Homo sapiens: one gene and its partner. Changing the gene in region 1 together with any one later gene gives a genetic interaction. Each region holds a gene or a part of one and is shown in the gene's direction. Other genes may lie near its edges.

Region 1 (3,170 bases):
GTGCAGGTCGGTGGTGTTGCACATTCATGCTGTTGCAGGCATGCAGGTCGGTGGTGTTACATTCACGCTGTTGCAGGAGTACAGGTCAGTGGTGTTACACACATTCATGCTGTTGTGCAGCTATCACTTCCATCTCCAGAGCCCTTTTCATCTTAAAACTGAAGCTCTCCCATCACACAGTGACCCTTCATGTCCCTCCCCAGTCCCTGAAAAACACTGTTCAGGTTTTTCTTCCTGGACCTCATTGTGTGGAGTTCCTCGTGTGAGTGCAGTCACACACGATTTGTCCTTTTTTTGTTTTCGTTTGTTGAGACAGAGTCTCATTCTGTCACTCAGGCTGGAGTGCAGTGGCGTGATCTCAGCTCACTGCAACCTCCACTCCCAGGTTCAAGTGATTCTCCTGCCTCAGCCTCCCAAGTAGCTGGGATTACAGGCGCCTGCCACCACGCCCAGCTAATTTTTGTGTTTTTATTAGAGACAGGGTTTCACCAAGTTGGCCAGACTGGTCTCAAACTCCTGACCTCGTGATCCACCCGCCTGGGCCTCCCACAGTGCTGGGATGACAGGCGTGAGCTACCACACCCGGCTGATTTATCCTTTTATTTGGGCTCCTTTCACTCAGCGTCTTTAAGCTTCATACGCGAAAGATGCTTCAGAGATTCCTTTTTCAGGCTGAATATCTGCTGCGTGGCTAGGCCACTTTTTGTTTAATCCTCTCTCCTCTGGTGGACACCAGGACTGTGCTGTTTTGGTTGCTGTAAGCGCGGGTGCACACGCCTGCCTGAGGCTGTGTTTTGGCCGTTGTGAGTGTGGGTGCACACACCTGCCTGAGGCTCTGCTTTGTTGTGAGTGCGGGTGCACACACCTGCCTGAGGCTGTGTTTTGGGTGTTGTGAGTGTGGGTGCACACACCTGCCTGAGGCTGTGTTTTGGGTGTTGTGAGTGTGGGTGCACACACCTGCCTGAGGCTGTGGCGCGATCTCGGCTCACTGCAACCTCCACCTCCCGGGTTCAAGCGATTCTCCTGCCTCAGCCTCCCGAGTAGCTGGGACCACACCCACCACCACACCCCGTTATTTTTTTGTATTTTTAGTAGAGATGGGGTTTTGCCATGTTGGCCAGGATGGTCTGGAACTGACCTCAGGTGATCCACCCACTGGCCTCCCAAAGTGCTGGGATTACAGGTGTGAGCCACTGTGCCCGGCCTCTTTTTACTTTGTTAATGGTGTATTTTGATAGATAACAGATTGTCATTTTCATGAAGCACAGCTGGTCAGTTTATTGTTGCTCATGTATTTGGCCTCATGTTCGAGTCCCTGTTTTTAATCATGAGCTGGACACAGCCCTCTTTAGAGCAACTGTGACCACTTGTGGTGAGAAGTGCAGCCCACACCATCCACGTGAGGCTCCCACACGCCATCCACGTGAGGCTCCCATGCAGACATTTAGAAGGCGTTTTCACTGCAGCTCAGAAAATGGCCCCAGGCCCCCATGGGCACCCCCATGTCACCAGGGCCTCTGGTTGCTGCCGGTACACAGGGATAGGCAGCCAGGCCTCGAAGGTGCTGGGCATGGGTTTGGGTGTCTGCGTTGGGTAGAGACCCGGAGCGCCCTTGCTGGGCGTGCCCTAACATCCCGGTACCCTGTGCCCCTCTGTGGGCCAGGACGCCTGGTGCTGCCAGCTGGGCGTAAGCCCTGAGGAGCTGAGGGTGGCTGTGACTTGGAGGATGAGTAGGAGCTCACCAGGAGGGCGTGGAGCCGAGGCGTTTAATATCATCAGGAGCAACACTGGGCTCAGAAGGCAGGCACACTTGCCGTCCCTCCAGAGCCATGGCTGACGGCCAGGCCTGGTGGGCTCTCGTGAGGACAGTGCCTGTGGTTGTCAGATGCTGTCCCTTCGAGTAAGGGATGAGAGCCATCCTGAAGATGGGTCAGCTCTGTGGTGACCACCCGTTGGGAGCAGTGACATTCAGGTGCGTTGCACTGGTGGCTGTGTGGCTGTGTGGTACGGCCACCAGGAGCCATGTGGGCAAGGACAGCTGTGGGCTGGGCACAGAGCTCTCTCTGCTGGGAGTCAGTCGGTGCTGGGGCGAGGGGAGGCAGAGCTCACAGAGCCCCTCTACAGCTCACCCTGCAGCTCGGCCCTGGCCAGTAAACCCACCATCCCCCTTTCTGCCGCAGGAGGCAGTGGAGAAGGTGACACAGCACATCCACGGCCTGTCTGGGAAGAAGGATGGGCTGGTGCCCATGTTCATCAATACCCACAGTGGCCTCTTCACCCACCTGGGCGTATTCACGCTGGGCGCCAGGGCCGACAGCTACTATGAGTACCTGCTGAAGCAGTGGATCCAGGGCGGGAAGCAGGAGACACAGTGAGGCCCGGCCCGCTGCCCCCAGCTCCCGCGGCTCCCCCGTTCCCGCAGCCCCCCACTCCTGCTGCCCCCAGCTCCCACGGCCCCCGCTCCTGCTGCCCCCCGCCACACTGTGTGTCAGGAAACCGCAGCCGTGCCAGGCCTGGCCCAGGCATTTATGTGGAGGGCGTATTCATTCACCTCTCACCGTGGCCTCTGGGGGGGTGAGGGGGGCATCTTCACTGAGGGCCATGGGCTGTGCAGGGTGGCACCTTCTGTCCGGCAAGGGCCAGGCCTGCTGTACTTGTGTGGGCCCAGGATGTGCCTGTCCCTGGTGCCCCACGGGAGCCGATGCACCGTCCTGGTAGAGTGAGATGACTGCTGGTGTCCACAGGCTGCTGGAAGACTACGTGGAAGCCATCGAGGGTGTCAGAACGCACCTGCTGCGGCACTCCGAGCCCAGTAAGCTCACCTTTGTGGGGGAGCTTGCCCACGGCCGCTTCAGTGCCAAGATGGTGAGTGTGTCTGCGGGGCCTTCCGGCCGCCGCCCCTTTTACCTTGGCTTCCAAGGTGCCTGAGTCATGATGTCAAAAAGAACGAAATCCTGGCCATGGCGCCCACGTGGAGGCCCTGGGTGGACCGTGGCTGCCTGGCCAGGCCTGTCTTGGCAACAGGGCAGTAAGGCCTTGTGTGGCACCTGGGGTGGGCAGGGCTTCCCCAGGGCAGCTCCCTCCCCGTGCCCGGTGTGTAGCAGGTCCTCGGGCGGTGTGTGGGGGCCGGGTTGGAGGGCCTGGTCCAGGCAGCTCCGCTGTTCCATGCC
Region 2 (3,821 bases), on another chromosome or scaffold:
TCAAAATCTTTGTAGCATTCATGGATTTGATTGGAATTCTTTGCGTTGTATTAATTTGATTTTGCTGTGGTATGACTATGTATCACCATTGCTGGGAAACTGATACATAGCAGAGAATCTCTCAGTGAGCGAGCCTAGTTGACATACCAACATCCACATCTCAACATGGATCTCTGTTTTTCTTGTTGTATGACTAAAAGCAAAACTGCTGTCTCGCACCTAAGCACACCAGATTCCTCATTTGGGGAAAAAAGCATTTGGAGATAAAGAACAACGTAATACTTATTTCCAAAATAAATGAAGCTTTGAGCCCTCTCCTGCAACAGCTAACCCTCTACTGAAAACAGTTTTATCCTTGACTTTGCAGTACCAAGGACTGCAGATGTGATGACCGTTACAGATATGAAAATCATGAGGGAAAACTGATTTTCCTGCTACTATGAACAGATTAAATTTAACTTTGCGAAACTTGTGAGGTTTTCTCCTTTAAGTATCTGCTATGTTTTTAGACAGTTCTTCTTAAGTCTGGGCTCCCTTACAAAATTGCTAGTATTAATACTCTTCTTAATGCTTTCATCTTTGGCTTTTCCTTATGTGCACACGTATTAATGCTTATAACATGAAAAAAACTTCTTCTGGAACTGTGTGTGACACATATGAGGAAATGACAGAAGGGCAGTGTCCAGAGGGCCTTGTGCCACATATTGAGTTGAAGCTGGAGAGAGGTTAAAACTAGAAATTGTTAGAGAGCTTTTCTTCATCCTAAGAATGTTTAAATGTCACAAAGGATTTTAAAGCAAAAACTAGGATGGATGGATAATGTGTAATGGGCCGTTTTCTGAGAAGAGGGAATGCCAGATGGAATGAGAAGGTGACGCTGAGTCATGCGAATGGAGGAGATAGGTGGGACTGATGCTTAGAGAACTGTAAGCTCAAGATTAAAAACTGGGAATTCTCAGCAGATAGGTGGTCTTTAAAATCCTTGGGCATGGCCAGGCCTGGTGGTTCACTGTTGGGGTTCAATCAGGCTGGTGGGAAAAATATTAGAGATAGTTATAGAAATAGACACATATCTTCTTGGAAAACTGAGAAGTAACTTCAGTAATAGATCTGGCTGAACGCGGCCTGGTTCCTTTACCTTTAGTTAAACAAATTAAACTAGTAATAAAGGAAGGCAGGGTAGTTTACCTAGCTAGCTTGTTTACTCATATAATATTAAGACTAACCTTTGATGTGCCATGGGTGCTTAAGTGCTTTTTACTTGGGAAGTCCACAATGTCAGTTACCCTCTAATGGTGTTGACTCAAGCCTTTGTGAATTAATCTTACTGAATAAATTTGAGTCTCACTAGCGGATAGGGCCATGGTCGCAACTGTTTACAGAACTCTCCAGGGAGTCTGTAAATGGCTCGGACACCCTCAGCTGGACTGGCGAAACAGGATATCTGTGTGTTAGTGTACTTTATTCATCCATTGCTGGGTCAGGGTCTGCAGGCAGACACCCACAGCTAGTGCCCCCATGTTGCCACAGCTCATGCCTATAATTAAAGCACTTTGGGAGGCCGACGTGGGCAGTTCACTTGAGGTCAGGAGTTCAAGACCAGGCTGGTCAACATGGTGAAACCCCATCTCTGCTAAATATACCAAATTTAGCCGAGCGTGGCGGCAGGTGCCTATAATCCCAGCTACTCTGGAGGCTGAGGCAGGAGAATTGCGTGAACCCGGGGGACGGAGTTGCAGTGAGCCAAGATTGTGGTGCTGCACTCCAGCCTGGGCAAGAGAGTGAGACTTCATCTCCAAAAAAAAAAAAAAAAAATTGGGGCAGGGACAAAACTGTGTAGGTAGTACAGAGTAAGAAAAGAGGGGACCTAAAAAAGTGAGTCTTAGAAACTCTAACAATCACCAAATCAAGAGGGATGAGCTTTCCAAAGGAAACTGAGAAGGTGACTGAGAAAGTGGAAAAAGAAAGTATGTAGAGGAAACTTATTTCAAGGGAGGTAAGAGTTGAGAGTGGCCAACAGTATCAAATTCTATGAATTAGAAAGGTCTAATGAAATCAGTTCTGAAAACATGTCGTTCAGATTTATTTTACTTGGGGTTGTAAATACATAGGGCACCAAAAACACTCTGATGCTTCATTATCTTTTAATGGTTATGTCACGGAAATGTAAAGTTGAGCTGATTTTTTTCTTGGTTGGCCCTCCTTGGGTTTGGCATGTTGTATGTGTATGTGTTAAGGAGATAACTGCAGGACCTACCATGTCTTTATTGAGTGATTTTTTTTTTCCCAGAAATACTCTTCGTGTTGATTTCTATGAATTTTTGCTCAAAAATAATAGTCACTTGAAATCTATACACACAGGCATATTTTCATCTCAGGAAAGGCTTATTCTCTACTTTGACTACTTTTTTCTACTTTTTTTTTTTCCTACTTTTCATTTGAGCTTTATTTCCTATGCTACTTTTTACGGTTCTCTGTGAGTCCTCATTATTTATAAGTTGGTTATTTATTTTCAGTTCTCCATTGTAAAATTTTCCTGATTCTAAAATTCTAAGAGCAGTTTATTATGTAGATCTTTTGCTTAAGGGACAGTGTAAAAACTGTGCCTTCAACATTTTAGGATCGTTAACTAATCTCAGAACAACTATAGTTAATTCAGTCTTCAAACTTTGTAATAGTGAATATTTTTAAAGGGCTTAAAGCTAACTTTTTTTTTTAAACAGAGATGTAAATATTAAATATATCCTATTGCATTTCAGTTTCTTTGTAAATATTCTATCATCATTCTGGTTATATCACTCATGTTTTAGACTGTCCATATAATATTTTAAGTGTCAAAATAATATTTTAAATATACTCATTGTATGGAAAAATAATTGTATACATTTTTCTTTTTTGTTTAGATATGGAGTATGAAACAAGACAATTGTGTCCATGATTTGCAAGCACATAATAAAGAAATTTATACTATCAAATGGAGTCCAACAGGACCAGGGACTAATAATCCAAATGCCAACCTTATGTTAGCAAGGTGATACTTCTGTTTCATTTTTCCTTTTATGAGTCTTCTACAAATCAGACTTCCAATAGATATGACAGAAGTTTAGGGAAGATTTCATGAAGTGGAAACTTTTTTTTTTTTTTTTCCAATTTCAGTAGTTTTTGGTGTATAGGTGGTTTTTGGCTACAAGAATAAATTCTTTAGTGCTGATTTCTGTGCACTGGTTTTGCAAGCAGTGTAGTGTACCCAGTGTGTAGTCTTTTATTCCTCACCTCTCTTCTCAGCCTTCTCCCCACTCCCACCTCCAGTCCACAAAGTTCATTATATCATTCTTATACCTTTGTGTCCTCATAGCTTAGCTCCCACTTACAAGTCAGAACATGATATTTGGTTTTCCATTCCCGAGTTATTTCACTTAGCATGATGGCCTCCAGCTCTATCCAAGTCACTGCAAAGGACAATATTTTATTTCTTTTTATGGCTAAGTAGTATTCCATGGTGTATGTATACCACATTTTCTTTATCCACTTGTTAGCTGATGGGCACTTACGTCGGTTCCTTAAGGGGAATCTTTAAACACTGAGTTTTATTATTGTTTCAAGTTATAATGATATTCTATATTGAAATAATCAAATATTGACTGATACCAAATACTGATTAAAATCCAAGCAATTGAGGCATAGCAAAATCTTCAGTATCTTTAGAAAAAAAAAAGATAAATGGAAAAATGTGGTCACTTTGGTGTTCAAAACCATGCGAAAGAGGGATTATTTAGACAGAGAGGAATACAGTAAATGAGCACATTTACGTTTTCTACTCC

The links.
Region 2: changes in MAN1B1 (region 1) and TBL1XR1 together harm fitness more than expected from each alone (negative genetic interaction), as found in Homo sapiens cells (one large-scale study listed by BioGRID).

The regions. Positions count from the first base shown.
Region 1 is NC_000009.12:137,103,945-137,107,114, forward strand, and holds part of MAN1B1 (endoplasmic reticulum mannosyl-oligosaccharide 1,2-alpha-mannosidase), read left to right. Parts: coding exon of another isoform or gene 1-421; exon of another isoform or gene 422-1,032; intron 1,033-2,180; coding exon 2,181-2,371; intron 2,372-2,744; coding exon 2,745-2,865; intron 2,866-3,170. Other genes in the region: uncharacterized protein LOC124902313, read left to right, coding at 1-266. UniProt on the Homo sapiens protein: Involved in glycoprotein quality control targeting of misfolded glycoproteins for degradation.
Region 2 is NC_000003.12:177,033,408-177,037,228, reverse strand, and holds part of TBL1XR1 (F-box-like/WD repeat-containing protein TBL1XR1), read left to right. Parts: intron 1-2,903; coding exon 2,904-3,031; intron 3,032-3,821. UniProt on the Homo sapiens protein: F-box-like protein involved in the recruitment of the ubiquitin/19S proteasome complex to nuclear receptor-regulated transcription units. Plays an essential role in transcription activation mediated by nuclear receptors.